Linked DNA regions of Homo sapiens. The gene in region 1 interacts genetically with each later gene. Each region holds a gene or a part of one and is shown on either strand. Other genes may lie near its edges.

What was found. A genetic interaction does not mean that the proteins touch.
Region 2: of MSX1 (region 1) and SP1, changing one suppresses a phenotype caused by changing the other (phenotypic suppression), as found in Homo sapiens cells (one study listed by BioGRID).

Annotation. Positions count from the first base shown.
Region 1 is NC_000004.12:4,858,501-4,862,464, reverse strand, and holds the start of MSX1 (homeobox protein MSX-1), read right to left. Parts: upstream 2,801-3,964; 5' UTR 2,566-2,800; coding exon 2,097-2,565; intron 1-2,096. UniProt on the Homo sapiens protein: Acts as a transcriptional repressor. Capable of transcription autoinactivation.
Region 2 is NC_000012.12:53,407,676-53,411,175, forward strand, and holds part of SP1 (transcription factor Sp1), read left to right. Parts: intron 1-1,686; coding exon 1,687-1,886; intron 1,887-3,251; coding exon 3,252-3,500. UniProt on the Homo sapiens protein: Transcription factor that can activate or repress transcription in response to physiological and pathological stimuli.

The DNA.
Region 1 (3,964 bases):
AAAATACCCACGTTGAAGGCTCGATGTCCACATCTTAGGCCTAAACAGCTGGGAAGATGTGAAATCACCTTTGTGCTGCCCGGCGGCTTAGGAAGGCCTTCATGGCGGGCCTCCTCCCAGGGCCATCCAGAGGAAAGGTGGATGTTAATACAGTTGACGAACATGCAGAAAGAGGCCCTGCGCCCAGCCCAAGGGCACATTTAGTTTTACGCGTTGGCCAAACATTTATCAGTGCCCACGGAGTGCTTCAGTGTGGGGCTAGGCAGTTTTGTGGCATAGAATCCAAATCAAATTCTACACTTTCCCCGGAACACTTCGCTCCTACGGGATTCTAGGAGTAGTTCCCGCAGACCAGAGATGGAGCAGCGCAGACCATCATGGAGGGTGCACTGTGGCCAGCCCTCTTAGAAACAGAAAGTGTCATCTGGAGCGGAGAACGAGGGGCTGCTTTATTCTAATGGGCTTTTTCTTTAGATTGTCTCAGTCCTCTGTTGGATCGCGTTCACCCCTGGCGCCAGGGCCCTCTGGCCCCACTCAAACGTTTGTGTGTGTGTGTGTGTGTGTGTGTTGATGTTGTTGCGGGGGGAGTGTTGAGATCGCCTCTCCCCTCAACCTGTGGCATAGTCAGCAGACATCAACATGCCCAGCTGTCTTTTTCTTTTGGCTTCAAAATAAACCTCAAGGGTGGACAGTGAAGAAGCATCAGAGCGCAGGACTAGTGCAGGTCGGGGATGGGGTCTGCTGGGGACTGCCCCCGGATAAAATGTGGAACAAATTATCCCAACACAGCCGGGATCGCTTTGACTTCGGGGTCTTGGGGCCCAAGGCCCTAAGCGTTGGAAAGGACACTTTGCCTATGCAGCAGCTTTCCCGGCAGAAAGTGAATTCAAATCGAAGATGTTTCACCACGCGGGTTTTGCCTAAGTATGCATTTTTTCACACCTCTCTAAAAAACAACCACAAACAAACAGAAAAAACAAAACAAAACAAAGAAAACACAACGATCCTTTGGACTTTCAGACCACCAGGATGTGAGTCAAACGAAATCTCGTGTTAACACCCCGCTTCTTCCCTGCTGGAGGCCACCGGGAGTCCGGGAAGCGCTTGGCCCCCAACTAGCTTTCCGCCGGGCCGCCCGAGGGGCGGGCGCCGAGAGAAACGTCACTCCCTTCAGCGGCGACAACCCAGAGCGGGGCCACCTTCTCCGGCCATTAGGCTTAGGGAGGGACTGGCCTTTCAAAGACGTTTAATCCCCAGATAAAAATCATTCCTCAGCATCACGCCATTGAAATCTGGCTGCTATTATGCCGAGCAAAATAATCGGAGGAAACGAGGAAAACTTGGGAATTTCCCGTGCTCCTGAAATATCTCCGAGCGTGTTCTCTGAGTAGAGCAGCCAGGGGGCCGTGAGGCCTTGGAGCGAACCGCCTTGGGCACCTGGAGTCCACTTTAATGGCTCAGTCCTAGACGTTTGGGAGCTTCCCATAGGATTAGCGGGGGCGCCTTCCCCTAATTGACTTGGTGCCCCGCCCCCTCCACTGGAACCTGAATGTCCCCACCCCTGAATCATCCATCCGCCCAAAGCACCAACTATCTGCCTCAAACTCAAAGGGCATGGGGAGGTAGAATTCTGTAGGAGCTTCGGAACCTCTAGGCAAAGAGGTACTTGAAAGGGAAGAGGGGCTGGGGGACACCAGCTCCTACTGCGAGAAAGTGAAACTCCGGGTGCAGGGAAGATACCGCACCACACACATTCATCCGCTGGGGTGAAGCCGATGAAACAGAGTTTGGGATCAGATGAGGGATCATGGACCCCTGAGGTCGTTTGGTGGGGGCAGGAGGACAGGGTGCCCAGACATCGGTGTCCTATCCGTTAACTCCCACCCGCAGCGTCTCTGGGCCAAGGCGAGGAGGTCTGGAACCTTCTTCCTGGGTGGGAGTGGAGGGAGGCGCAAGACCCGGCCTTGCAGCCCACGGCTCCCTAGCACCGGCTGCAGGTACGCAGGCGCCGGAGGCCACCAGGAGCCCTCGGGTCCCACACCCCACCCGGCCCCCACCCGGCCCCCTCCCTCTGCGCCTGGGTTCTGGCTACTCACTGGCCGGCGGCGGGGAGAAGCGGGGGCTCTGCATCCACGGGGTCCTCTCGGGCTTCTCGGGGCTCTCGGCTTTGACGAGCGCATCTTCTGGCAGCTTGAGGAGTCCCCCCACCGAGAAATGGCCGAGCGGCCGCGGCGAAGAGGGCGCGTCCGGGGCTCCCAGCGACCCCGGCGGGACGCCCAGTGGCTGCGCCGAGCCACCCGCCGCCTGCACGCCCTCGGAGGGCGCCAGGGCGCTCTCCTTGGCCCCCGGCTTCCTGTGGTCGGCCATGAGCGCCTCCACGCTGAAGGGCAGGAGCGAAGGGGACACTTTGGGCTTGGCCCCCTCCTCGTCCGCGCCCATGGCGGCTGCCGTGGCCGCGGCGGCGCTGGGGGCCTGGCCCGCGCCTCCCCCCGCCGGCTTGCCGAAGGCGGAGTCCTCCACTTTGACACCGAGTGGCAAAGAAGTCATGTCAGCAGCCGGGGCCATGCAGAGCCGGGCCCCCCCTTCTGCCGCAGCACTGGCCAGCCGCCGGGCATGGGCTCCGGGCGGGCTGGGAGCGCGGCCGGCCTCTGCGAGCGCCCGGGGCCCTGGCCGGGCGGACCCTCCCGCGCGCGCCTCCCGCCCCTCCCCAGCAGGCCAGCTCCGGCGTGCTGGGCCTGGCCTCCGGTCGCTGCCGCCGCGCAGGCAGAGTTCCCGGGAGCACTCGCCGGCTCCGGGCCCTACCGCGGCTCCCCAGAGAACTTGCTAATAAGGCGAGGCCAGCGGGGCGGCGGCCAATCAGCGCGCGAGGGGGCGGGCCCGGAGCGATCCATTGGGCCGCGCTCCTGGGGACTCGCCCGGAGGCGCGCTGGGCCTGGGGGCACGCAGGGCAGGGCCCAGGCGGCGGAGGGCAGGGGAGGAGAGGGGGTGCCCGGGAAACTTTCCTCTGCGCTGAAGCCCAAGAGGCCCTCTCTGCGGGAGTCCCCTGGGTCTCTATCTTTCTGTGTTCCCGGGGGATTTTCCCTTGTTCTCGTTCCTTCTCTTCTGCCCTCCTCTCCTCCCCTCCCCTCCCCTCCTCAGCCCTCTTTTCCGCTCCTCTTTTTTTCCCCGTCCTTGTTTCTCTCCTCTACTGCTTCTTTTACCTTTCTCTTTAGTCTGTGGCTGGGTTTCCCTGTGCCCCCCTCCACTGTCTGACCCCCCCTCTTCTTCTACCACAATAATTTGAGTTGAGGTTATTTCTTACACATTCCTTTTATATATAGTTTTTAAAATACGCATGGCTATTTATCCTAGGAGAAAGACATACTATTAACTTCTTTTCAAGAAACGAAACAAAACCAAACCTTCATTTTCTTCCTGTTCTGAAATCTTGTAAACTTTACCTCGAGGTAAAAGTGGGCCTTTGTCTCTAACTTAGAGCTGGAGTAAACCTTGCGGGAAGAAGCTAGCTTCCTGTAGTGCCAAGGATGTGAGAATACGTAAGATTATCTAGAATCTGCAGTCGGTTTTCATACACGATGTGTATTCCCCCCCCCCCACCCTCGCTCTGAACTTCTGTCCCAAGGGTCACAACACCTATAGCGCCCGGGCGGGGAAAGGAGCTGCCAGATCCTTTTGATATAGAACTTACTGAAATAAAACCAACAGAATCGTCAATGAAACACCGATCTGGCCTTAAGGTGACCTCAAACAACGCGTCCTCGGAAACAATGACATGTCCCTATCTCTGGGCCGCTGATCCTGGAGGGGAGAGGCACATTTGGGGGAGGGGGCTGGGAAAAGAGGAAAGTTCCTGGAGGTGGACTCTAGTGTGGGACTTGAGAACTCTTCTTTTGCCAATTTCGGAGAAAACGTGATTTAATGTTTGCTGTTAATAATAATAATAATAATAAAGACAGAAAAAATG
Region 2 (3,500 bases), on another chromosome or scaffold:
GCCCAGGCTGGAGTGCAGTGGCACAATCTTGGCTCACTGCAGGCTCCGCCCCCTGGGTTCACGCCATTCTCCTGCCTCAGCCTCCCTAGTAGCTGGGACTACAGGTGCCCGCCACCTCGCCCAGCTAATTTTTTGTATTTTTAGTAGAGACGGGGTTTCACCGTGTTAGCCAGGGTGGTCTCGATCTCCTGACCTTGTGATCCGCCTGCCTTGGCCTCCCAAAGTGCTGGGATTACAGGCATGAGCCATGGGGGCGCCCGGCCTTTTTTTTTTTTTAAGACAGATCTTCATCCGGGTACGGTGGCTCACGCCTGTAATCCCAGCACTTTGGGAGGCCAAGGCGGGCGGATCACCTGAGGTCAGGAGTACAAGACCAGCCTGGCCAACATGGTGAAACCCCATCTCTACTAAAAGTACAAAAATTAACCGGCGTGGTGTCAGGTGCCTGTAATCCCAGCTACTTGGGAGGTTGAGGTAGGAGAATTGCTCGAACTTGGGAGGTGGAGGTTGCAGTGAACCGAGATCGTGCCGTTACACTCTAGCCTGGGCGACAGAGTGAGACTCTGTCTCAAAAAAAAAAAAAAGAGCTTCGCTCTTGTTGCCCAGGCTGGAGTGCAACGGCACGATCTCGGCTCACTGCAACCTCCACCTCCCAGGTTCAAGCAATTCCTCTGCTTCAGCCTCCCAAGTAGCTGGGATTACAGGCATGTGCCACCACGCCTGGCTAATTTTGTATTTTTAGTAGAGATGGGGACCATGTTGATAAGACTGGTCTTGAACAATTTTTGTATTTTTTAGTACAGATGAGGTTTCGCCATGTTGGCCAGGCTGGTCTCGGATCCCTGACCTCAGGTGATCAATCCACCTGCCTCGGCCTCCAAAAGTGTTGGGATTACAGGCGTGAGCCATCACTCCCAGCCCCTAGAAACCTTTTTAAAAAAGAAGGCTTGGCCGGGTGCGGTGGCTCACGCCTGTAATCCCAGCACTTTGGGAGGCCGAGGTGGGTGGATCACAAGGTCAGGAGATCGAGACCATCCTGGCTAACATGGTGAAACCCCGTCTCTACTAAAAATACAAAAAATTAGCCGGGTGTGGTGGCGGGCACCCATAGTCCCAGCTACTCGGGAGGCTGAGGCAGGAGAATGGCGTGAACCCGGGAGGTGGAGGTTGCAGTGAGCCAAGATTGCGCTATTACACTCCAGCCTGGGCGACAGAGCGAGACTCCGTCTCAAAACAAACAAACGAACAAAAAAAAGAAGCCTTGGTCCAGTGCAGTGGCTCACGCCTGTAATCCCAGTACTTTGGGAGGCGGAGGTGGGCAGATCCATCACCTGAGCTCAGGGGTTCGAGACCAGCCTCGCCAACATTGCGAAACCTCATCTGCACTAAAAATATAAAAATTAGCTGGGCATGGTGGTGTGCACCTGTAATCCCAGCTACTCGGGAGGCTGAGGCAGGAGAATCGCTTGAACCTAGGAGGCGGAGGTTGCAGTGAGCCGTGATCATGCTACTGTACTCCAGCCTGGACGACAGAGTGAGACTCTCTCAAAAAAACAAAAAAGAAGACTTTTTCAAAAAATAAAAGTTTGGGTTAGTTTGGTGTCGATTGGGTGATTGCTGTTGATACTTTGTGGTTCTTTAGTTTTCTCTAGAATGAATGATTAACAGTTGTGTCCTCACTTTCAGGGGCTCGGGGGATCCTGGCAAAAAGAAACAGCATATTTGCCACATCCAAGGCTGTGGGAAAGTGTATGGCAAGACCTCTCACCTGCGGGCACACTTGCGCTGGCATACAGGCGAGAGGCCATTTATGTGTACCTGGTCATACTGTGGGAAACGCTTCACACGTTCGGATGAGCTACAGAGGCACAAACGTACACACACAGGTGAGCAAGAGCCTATGGGAGAGAAAAATAGTAATAGACTAGAATGAAAAACACAAAATATACCTACAAAATAACTAAAATTTCTGAGCAACTTAATTTGAAACTGAATATATGGGTCACAAATGGAATTGGAGTTAATCTGGAAAATTTTTAAGAAGGAAGGAGGGGCTGGGTGCAGTGGCTCACGCCTGTAATCCCAGCACTTTTGGAGGCCGAGGCGGGCAGATCACGAGGTCAGGAGATCGAGACCATTCTGGCTAACATGGTGAAACCCCGTCTCTACTAAATATACAAAAAAATTAGCCGGGCATGGTGGCAGGCGCCTGTAGTTGCAGCTACTCAGGAGGTGGAGGCAGGAGAGTGGCATGAACCTGGGAGGCGGAGCTTGCAATGAGCCAAGATCGTGCCACTGCACTCCAGCCTGGGCGACAGAGCGAGACACTGTCTCAAAAAAAAAGGAAGGAGCCAGGTGTCGTGGCTCATGCCTGTAATCCCAGCCCTTTGGGAGGCCGAGGTGGGTGGATTTCTTGAGGTCAGGAGTTCAAGACCAGCCTGGCCAACATGGGGAAACCCTGTCTCTACTAAAATTACAAAATAGTCAAGCGTGCTGGTGCACACCTGTAATCCCAGCTACTCAGGAGGCTGAGGCAGGAGAATTGCTTGAACCTTGGAGGCGGAGGTTACAGTGAGCTGAGATTGTGCCACTGCACTCCAGCCTAGGCGACAGAGCAAGACTCTGTCTCAAAAAAATAAAATAAAATAAAATAAGGAGCTAGATTTTGAGTGGGATTTTTGAAGGTGAAGCATTGAAACCATTACTCTTAGTCTCTGCCCTGCCTTACTTTTAAAACTGCTAAGTTCTACCTTCCTTACCGAGTACTCCCCAACCTTTATCTAGTTTTCTTCCTCACGCCCCCGCCAAAAGGAAAATATACTTGAAGTTTTTTGTTTTTTGTTTTTTTTTTGAGACAGAGTCTCTGTCGCCCAGGCTGGAGTGCAGTGGCGCGATCTCGGCTCACTGCAAGCTCCGCCTCCCGGGTCCACGCCATTCTCCTGCCTCAGCCTCTCCGAGTAGCTGGGACTACAGGCGCCCGCCACCACGCCCGGCTAATTTTTTGTATTTTTAGTAGAGACAGGGTTTCACCGTGGTCTTGATCTCCTGACCTCGTGATCTGCCCGCCTTGGCCTCCCAAAGTGCTGGGATTACAAGCGTGAGCCACCACGCCCAGCCACTTGAAGATTTTTCTTGTTTTTGATCACCTTCTCATACTGGCCTTACTCAGCTTAGTAGAGTAAGCACTGAATTGGGTAAGGTAACCTCACTTCCTAACATGTCAGCTTCTTATCTTTTCTTCCTTTACCTAGGTGAGAAGAAATTTGCCTGCCCTGAGTGTCCTAAGCGCTTCATGAGGAGTGACCACCTGTCAAAACATATCAAGACCCACCAGAATAAGAAGGGAGGCCCAGGTGTAGCTCTGAGTGTGGGCACTTTGCCCCTGGACAGTGGGGCAGGTTCAGAAGGCAGTGGCACTGCCACTCCTTCAGCCCTTATTACCACCAATATGGTAGCCATGGAGGCCATCTGTCCAGAGGGCATTGCCCGTCTTGCCAACA